Linked DNA regions of Homo sapiens. The protein of the gene in region 2 interacts with the protein of the main gene of each other region in a biochemical or structural test. Each region holds a gene or a part of one and is shown on either strand. Other genes may lie near its edges. The genes, in order: RPAP2 and RPRD1B.

Region 1 (3,917 bases), on a different chromosome or scaffold from region 2:
TTGCAAAAAGATTTCCTAACATTCGCAATTTTGTGGGCTGTGAAAACAAAACTCAGTGTGTTTTTATTTGCTATTTCTCTGATTACTGATAATATTTAGCATCTTTTCATATGTTTATTAGCCATTCAAGTTCCTTGTGTAAATTTTTCTATTAGTTTGTCTGTCTTTTTCTTATAGATCATATATTCTAGATATGATTCTATGGTCAGTTAACATTCTGCTTTGTGGCTTCTCTTTTCATTTTTTTTTTGAAACTTCTGATGAACAAAAGTTTTACATTTTAATATAGAAATGTTTATCAGTTTCTCCTCTTTGGCCTATAATTTTCCATCTTATTTTATGAAGTCTCTCTACCCCAAGTTTATATCTTCCCATATTGTCTTTTTTTTTTTTTTTTTTTGAGACGGAGCCTCACTCTGTTGCCCCGGCTGGAATGCAGTGGTGCGATCTCGGCTCACTGCAAGCTCCGCCTCCCGGGTTCACGCCATTCTCCTGCCTCAGCCTCCCGAGTAGCTGGGACTACAGGCGCCCGCCATCACGTTTGGCTAATTTTTTTGTATTTTTAGTAGAGATGGGATTTCACTGTGTTAGCCAGGATGGTCTCGATTTCCTGACCTCGTGATCTGCCCGCCTCGGCCTCCCAAAGTGCTGGGATTACAGGCTTGAGCCAGGGCGCCCGGTCTATTGTCTTTTTTTTGAAGACAGTGTCTTGCTCTGTTGCCCAGGCTGGAGTGCAGTGGCATGATCTCGGCTCACTGTAACCTCTGCCTCCCAGGTTCATGCGATGCATGTGCCTCAGCTTTCTGAGTAGCTGGGACTACAGGTGCGTACCACCACCTTTGGCTGATTTTTGTACTTTTTGTAGAGACAGGGTTTTGCCGTTGCCCAGGCTGGCCTCCAACTCCTTGAGCTCAGGTAATCCGCCCCCCTTGGCCTCCCAAAGTGCTAGGATTACAGGTGTGAGCCACCACGACCAGCATCTCCCATAGTGTCTTCTACCTTTTACATTTATGTCTTTAATCTACCTAAAATTGATCTATGTATAGAGACTGAGATAGGCATCAATTTTAATTTTTTCCATTTGCATAACTAATTGTGCCAGTATAATTTATTGAAAAATCCATCCTTTCTCTACTGATCTACAATACTCCCGCTGTCATATATCAAGTGTCTACATATGTGGTTAGTCTGCTGCTGACTCTCTATTCTGTTCCATGATTTATTTGCCCAGATTTGTGCCAATATGCACTTTTAAATGTTCAAGTCTTAATTGAAGCTTAAGCAAAAAAATTTTTAATACCTTGATTGAAATATTTACAAATAAAATCAAACTTTTAACATCACTATTTTCTAACCAGTAAGATTTTAAAGTTTCTTTTAGAATCCTATTTAATATCATTAAAAATTAATTGCCATGCCTTGTTAGGATAGTGGTTAGTAAAGAAAAAAAATTAATTGCCACAATGAAAGCCTTTAAACTCACCTTTCTTTCAGTAATATCATAGACTTTATTGGTTTTGGTAGAAATTTTATATTTCTGTTTTGGTACCTAAAGAAAAGAAAGTACAGCTTACAAAAGAATCCAAATAATAAACATGAACGTTATGTTACAAGATTAAGTCATCTACATATCATATCATTGGCCAATCCATGCCTTTAGTTCATGACCTTAGGTTTTATTTCTTATTCTTACAACAAAGTATTTTGCTAAATGAAAATAATAAAAGCCTATATTTTAAAAAAAATGAGTTACTTACAATTCCCAGCTTCTTCTGACATAAAGGATAACCACAGAGTTTGACAATAGAACGTTCATCCACGACATCACTGTAGTGAGCAGGTGTAATGAACCTCCCCTAAAATGAAATGAGAGGGTTATTTCCTCCTAGTTTAATAGAAAAGTTCATTTATCAGCTCTCTAAGCCTCATCAATCTTATCTGAAAACACAGGGATAGCAATAGTACCTTCCTCATAAGTTAGAGGTTAGAATTAGAGGAGAAAATAAAGCAAAATCACTTAGAGAAGTGCTCAACATATAGTGAGCATTCAAAAAAAAAGTTATTATTAAAAAAATTTCTGCCACAGTAGTCTCTGCATCTTTGTAGATTATATAGTTAAATGAAATAATTCTGAGGCATGAGGAAGAAGTGATGCTATAGCTATACACAAGCTAAATGACAACAGTATCTTTTATTTTTGAAAAAGTATTATTTAAAAAATTAACTAAATCACAAAATAATAAAATATAATTTTACCTATTTTTTAAAGCATAATCTTTAAAAACAAAGTATTTCAAAAGTGTCATTGTTACTGCAGAACACAGTTTGTGCAAAATTTTCCTACTTCTGAAAAATCTGTACAGAGTGGTGAGGTGATGGTTATAAGCTAACATCAAATATTTTCCTTTGACATCTTCATGATCAAATAATTTTGATTCTTGTTCATAACTTTGAGATCTTTTAACAAGTTTTTCTGTTTTCACAGAGACAGAAATACTTTTTATTGAGAGTGATGTAAGTTTTATGTTTCAAATGAAGCATATTTGCCTTTGTCTTTTCTGGTGTCATCAAATATGCAGATTCTGATGCAGTTACCTGTGTCAATAAAAATATGAATTGTCATGTTCATATTCCTGTTTAGAAAAAGATCTATCAACTACACTAAGAAGTGTTTTTGTAATAGAAGCTTTGAGTTTTAATTTGCCCTCTTAAGGATTACAAAAATATAAAGAGAAATTTCCATTCAAAATTTTAATGTAGTAAAGCTGTTTCAAAATTTTTTTATTCTCAAATTTTTATTTAGACAGGGTCTCGCTGTGTTGTCCAGACTGGTCTCAAACTCCTGGGCTCAAGCGATCCTACCGCCTTGGCTTCCCAAAGTGCTGGGATTACAGGTATGAGCCATCGTGCCTGGCCAAAAAAAAATTAATGCGGGCCGAGAGCAGTGGCTCATGCCTGTAATCCCAGCACTTTGGGAGGCCGACGCGGGCGGATCACGAGGTTAGGAAATCGAGACCATCCTGGCTAACACAGTGAAATCCCATCTCTACTAAAAATACAAAAAAATTAGCCGGGCGTAATGGTGGGCGCCCAGTCCCAGCTACTCGGGAGGCTGAGGCAGGAGAATGGCGTGAACACGGGAGGCGGAGCTTGCAGTGAGCAGAGATCCCGCCACTGCACTCCAGCCTGGGCGACAGAGTGAGGCTCCGTCTCAAAAAAAAAAAAAAAAAAAAAAAAAAAAATTTAATGCGGAATTTAATTCTCCCGTTTTATGTTGAGTCATAAATGAGCTGTATTTCAGGTTTTTGAAATAAGAAAATTGATGAAATTACATTGACAAAAATAATATTCTTCTGTTACTTAAAATAACACAACACAGAATATAGAAAACTGGAATTGCAATCATTAGAACAAATTGAAGAAAATCAAGTGATATTAGCAGACTGGTTAAAAGAACTATGACTAAGGGTAAAATATATTTGCTTTTTCTTTTTTTTTTTTTCTCCCCCATCCTCATTTTTCTTTTTTCCCATTTATTATTTATATACTTATTTTGAGACAGAGTCTCACTCTTGTTGCCCAGACTGGAGTGCAGTGGTGTGATCTCAGCTCACTGCAACGTCTGCCTCCTGAGTTCAAGTGATTCTCATGCCTCAGCCTCCTGAGCAGCTGGGATTACAGGCATGAGCCACACCTGGCTAATTTTGTATTTTTAGTAGAAACGAGGTTTCACCATGTTGGCCAGGCTGGTCTCGAACTCCTGACCTCAAGTGATCCGCCTGCCTTAGCCTCCCAAAGTGCTGGGATTACATGAGCCATTGTGCCTGGCCTCTTTTGCTTTTTAATTGACAATAATAATTGTATATATTTGTGGGGTAGTATGTGATGTTTTAACACATGTATACATTGAGCAAATC
Region 2 (3,917 bases):
CTCTCCAGACCCAAAGAGAATAACCTGGAAAGTCAGCTAGTGAGGGTCTGCAAGACCCAACTGAGAGAGCTTAAGAACCAGAGAATTTGGAGGCAGGTGAAGGCTGGAGTTGTATTTGGGGGAGTTTTGTTTGGAGTCAGTCTTTTTTTTTTTTTTTTTTTTGAGACAGGGTCTCACTCTCACCCAGGCTGGAGTGCAGTGGTGTGATCTTGGCTCACTGCAGTCTCCACCTCCTGGGCTCAAGCAATCTTCCCACCTCAGCCTCCTGAGTAGCTGGAACTATAGGCATGTGCCACCACGCTTGGCTAATTTTGCATTTTTTGTAGATGGGGTTTTGCCATGTTCGGGCACAAGTGATCCACCTGCCTCAGCCTCCCAAAGTGTTGGGATTACAGGCGTGAACCACCTTGTCTAGCCTGGAGTCACTGTTAATTTCTTCTGTTGGTCCATGGCAAGGTTTACAGATGACTTTGTTTGGAAAGCCTGAATCTGTTTTTAAAAGCAGGGATGGGGAGTGGGAAATCACAGTAGTTACTACTTGAGTCTATTTAGTGGACTATAAAAATTACTATAGCTTCAGTTTAACCTAATCAGAGCTTGCCATGAATTCGAGCCTGCTTGCCTCTCTTCAGGAAATTAATCTGGGTCATTTGACTGTCCCAGTTAAGCAGGTACATGTTTTAACAGTTTTAAAGGCAATTGCTGCCTGTATTTGGTTTTTCAGAGTATATACCCGGTTATCCTTGCCAATACATTTAAACCTCTTAGCCTACAGATCTTTTCTTTTTACCAGCCTCAGTGTTTTGTGTTTTTCATTTTTTTGTGGAGACAGGGTCTCTATTTCCCAGGCTGGTCTCGAACTCCTGGCCTCAAGCAGTCTGTCTGCCTCAGCCTCTGAAAGCATTGGGATTAAAGGCGTGAGCCACCATGCCCAGGCCAGCCTTGATGTTTATTAATCCTTTTCAGTGACAGTCTCACTCTCCCTCTTTCTTTCTCTAGTGATTCCTTCCTCTGACGCCTGCTCTTACAATAGGCGTCCCTGCGAGAAGAGTCACCCAGTGGCATCAAGAGCTCTGGGCAGGATCCGTCCACTTCCAGAGTGGCCTGAAGAGTGGAACACATTTCTTTTTAGTTAAATGAGTTTCTTCGGTAATGTCCAGAATATAATAGCCTAAGCATGATGGAATCCCCCGTACCCCACCCTATACCCCCTTCCAAACAGAAACAACTGTTGTTTGGTTTTTTGGGGTTTTTTTTGTTTTTTTGTTTATTTTTTTGACACGGAATTTCACTCTGTTGCCCAGGCTGGAGTGCAGTGACACAATCTCAGCTCACCACAACCTCTGCCCCGCCGGGTTCAAGCAATTCTCCTGCCTCAGCCCCCTGAGTAGCTGCGATTAACAGGCACCCACCACCCTGCCCAGCTAACTTTTGTATTTCTTAGTAGAGATGGAGTTGCACCATGTTGCCCAGGCTGGTCTTGAACTCCTGACCTCAGGTGATCTGCCTGCCTCGGCCTCCCAAAGTGCTGGGATTATAGGCATGAGCCACTGCGCCTGGCCACAACTGGGATTTTTAAGAAATTGCCTAGGAGAGAGTTAGTTGAACTTAAGGTGGTGTCTAATTAGAGCAAAGTGCCTTCCATTTTAACTTCAATGAACTTGCCACGTTGGTCTGATGATAACCCAAGAGTAAGGAGTCTTGGATTCTGATCCCAGCTCAGCTTCTAGAGACTTGGTGGTTTTCAAATTGTTCTTGAGGGACTCCTTCAACTGAAGGGCTCCCTAGTTGCCAAGAGTGGTTGGTTCTGAGTCGAGGTGGCTTTGATTTGTCAGCTTTGGTCAGAGAATTCAGGCAGGGGGCAGGAAGTCCGTGTTCTGTAGTTGTTTTGTTATTTTACCCTTTTTATACCTTCCATTCAGGAGAAGTTTATTAGATGAATCCGTGTCCAGAAATAGAGAATTAGTTGCCTTCATCCTTTATATTAATTTCCCTTGAAGTATAAACAGCCAAAGAAGAAAAGTACTTGTGGGAGAAAGGGGGTTCAGATCCTCAAATTTGAAAATAGTTTTCAACTTCAGGAACGTGAAAGGTGACTGTTAACCAAAGTCTGAGTCTCAGGAGCTACTTCATGTGGTATGCTTTTACCTGATGTTATGTTTTAGATATGGCTCATTCATTCGGCACATGTGCTGGGTGCCTACTGTTTGCTGGACACTGCGGAGCCTGGTGGATGCTGGGGGAAGCAGATGGGTCTGGTCCTGGCCTCCAGGAGCTTACTAGTTAAATGTGGGAGTCATTGCTAATCATTTACGTAAGTCATTGTTTAATTTTAGTTGTGGTAAGTTTACAAAGAAAAGAAATGGGCTGCTAGGAGAGCTCACTCTCTACCCTTTTCTCTTCCTTTGTAGACTGTGTGAGGAGCTCTCATTGCGGGTGGGAGACTGATTGCCTGCAGTAATGGGGAGAGGATATGCCTGGTTCCCTCCTCTCACTCCTTGCTTGGACTTTTGTCTTTACAACTTGAACTAAGTATTCTCCATTTGACCTTTTTCCTGCCTCATTATTCTTCCCAGACATTCTCTAGCTTCTACTTTCTGCCTCTTCAGGTGTGCATCAGGGATCTGGTATCAAGGAATTTAGAACTTGAAAAGAAGTGTTATGGTCCAGTTCCCTCACTTTCAGATATGGAAGAAGGGAACACATCCACGGTCACACAGCAGGTTAGAGGCAGAACCAGGACCAAGCCTAGGTCTCTGCATCTCAGCCCAGGGCTTCTTGTTACATTCCTGCAGGAAGGGCTTTCTAAGTCAGCAGGGGCCCAGCGTCAGGGACCTACTTACCCTTGCAGAGACACTGAGAGGACAAAAACTAAGCCCCAAGGGGGCCAACAGCCCCAGACTTCACATGGCCTAGGGTTGTTTTCTATATATCTTGGCAGATTTATCAAGAGTACCTTTTTCCGGGAGCTGAGGAAAGAAAAAAAATATGCCCCATTCCTATCATTAGGGGATTCATATTCTAGAGGAACATAGAAGTCTCACATGTATGGAGAGAGCATAGAGCAGCTTGCTAGGGGCTCAGGTACACACCCTGTGTGAGGGAGAGCTCTGGAGCAGGAGGAGATGCGGAGTCGTCTCCTGGATGCAGAGCAAGGATTTTCCTAGAGAGGTGGAGTCCAGATAGTCCAAGGAGCAGAGGAGTGGAGGCCAGGCTTTGCTAGGGCTAGGAGAAGAGAGAGACCCCCTCCAGGCTTGCGGGGAATCCTGAAAAAATGGTCCACACAGACAAAGAGGGTTAGGAGGTTGTGAGGCAGGGGCTGATTTTGTAAGACCTTGAACTCTGCTCTGAAGGACCAGATCATGGAGCTAGTGGGGTGCCGTGCCTCACTTTCTCAAGGGAGTGGTTTCATGAAAGCTGGGCTTTTGGGAGAGAAGTCTGGTGGCATTTTAGGAGCCCTAGGGGTCAGGAGGCCTAACCAGGGACTTACTGCAGTGACTCAGTTATGGAATGAGGAGGCCCTGGTCACAGGGAGTAGCAGTGGGGTATTTTGAGCTTCTATAGTGCTTGTTTGCAAAACATGATAAATTTAGGTTAATCTCCAAGCTTTAACATAGGAAGTATAACTTCAGTGTTTTTTTTCTTGCCATATCTAGGTGGAGTCCGCAAAGAAATTGTGAGGCTCAGGTGTCTGTTTTATTTTATAAAGCATTTTGAAACTTTTGAGAACCAACAAAAAGAGAATGCAAATACCAAGTGTTATTTCTTTCTACTTCCAAATCTCAAGCCCTAAATTGAATACCATTTAATTCACTGTTGCCAATATGGCACTCTGCGTTCCTTTTTTGATAGAAAGTTTTGCCTTTTGAGCATTTGAAGCCCTAGCTTTGTGATATAGCTGAACAGGGTGGGCAGGC

Evidence for each region.
Region 1: the proteins of RPRD1B (region 2) and RPAP2 interact in a biophysical measurement, tested with the Homo sapiens proteins (one study listed by IntAct).

The regions. Positions count from the first base shown.
Region 1 is NC_000001.11:92,301,916-92,305,832, reverse strand, and holds part of RPAP2 (putative RNA polymerase II subunit B1 CTD phosphatase RPAP2), read right to left. Parts: intron 1,857-3,917; coding exon 1,758-1,856; intron 1,550-1,757; coding exon 1,484-1,549; intron 1-1,483.
Region 2 is NC_000020.11:38,085,698-38,089,614, forward strand, and holds part of RPRD1B (regulation of nuclear pre-mRNA domain-containing protein 1B), read left to right. Parts: intron 1-999; exon of another isoform or gene 1,000-1,149; intron 1,150-2,165; exon of another isoform or gene 2,166-2,314; intron 2,315-2,411; exon of another isoform or gene 2,412-2,723; intron 2,724-3,917. UniProt on the Homo sapiens protein: Interacts with phosphorylated C-terminal heptapeptide repeat domain (CTD) of the largest RNA polymerase II subunit POLR2A, and participates in dephosphorylation of the CTD by RPAP2. Transcriptional regulator which enhances expression of CCND1.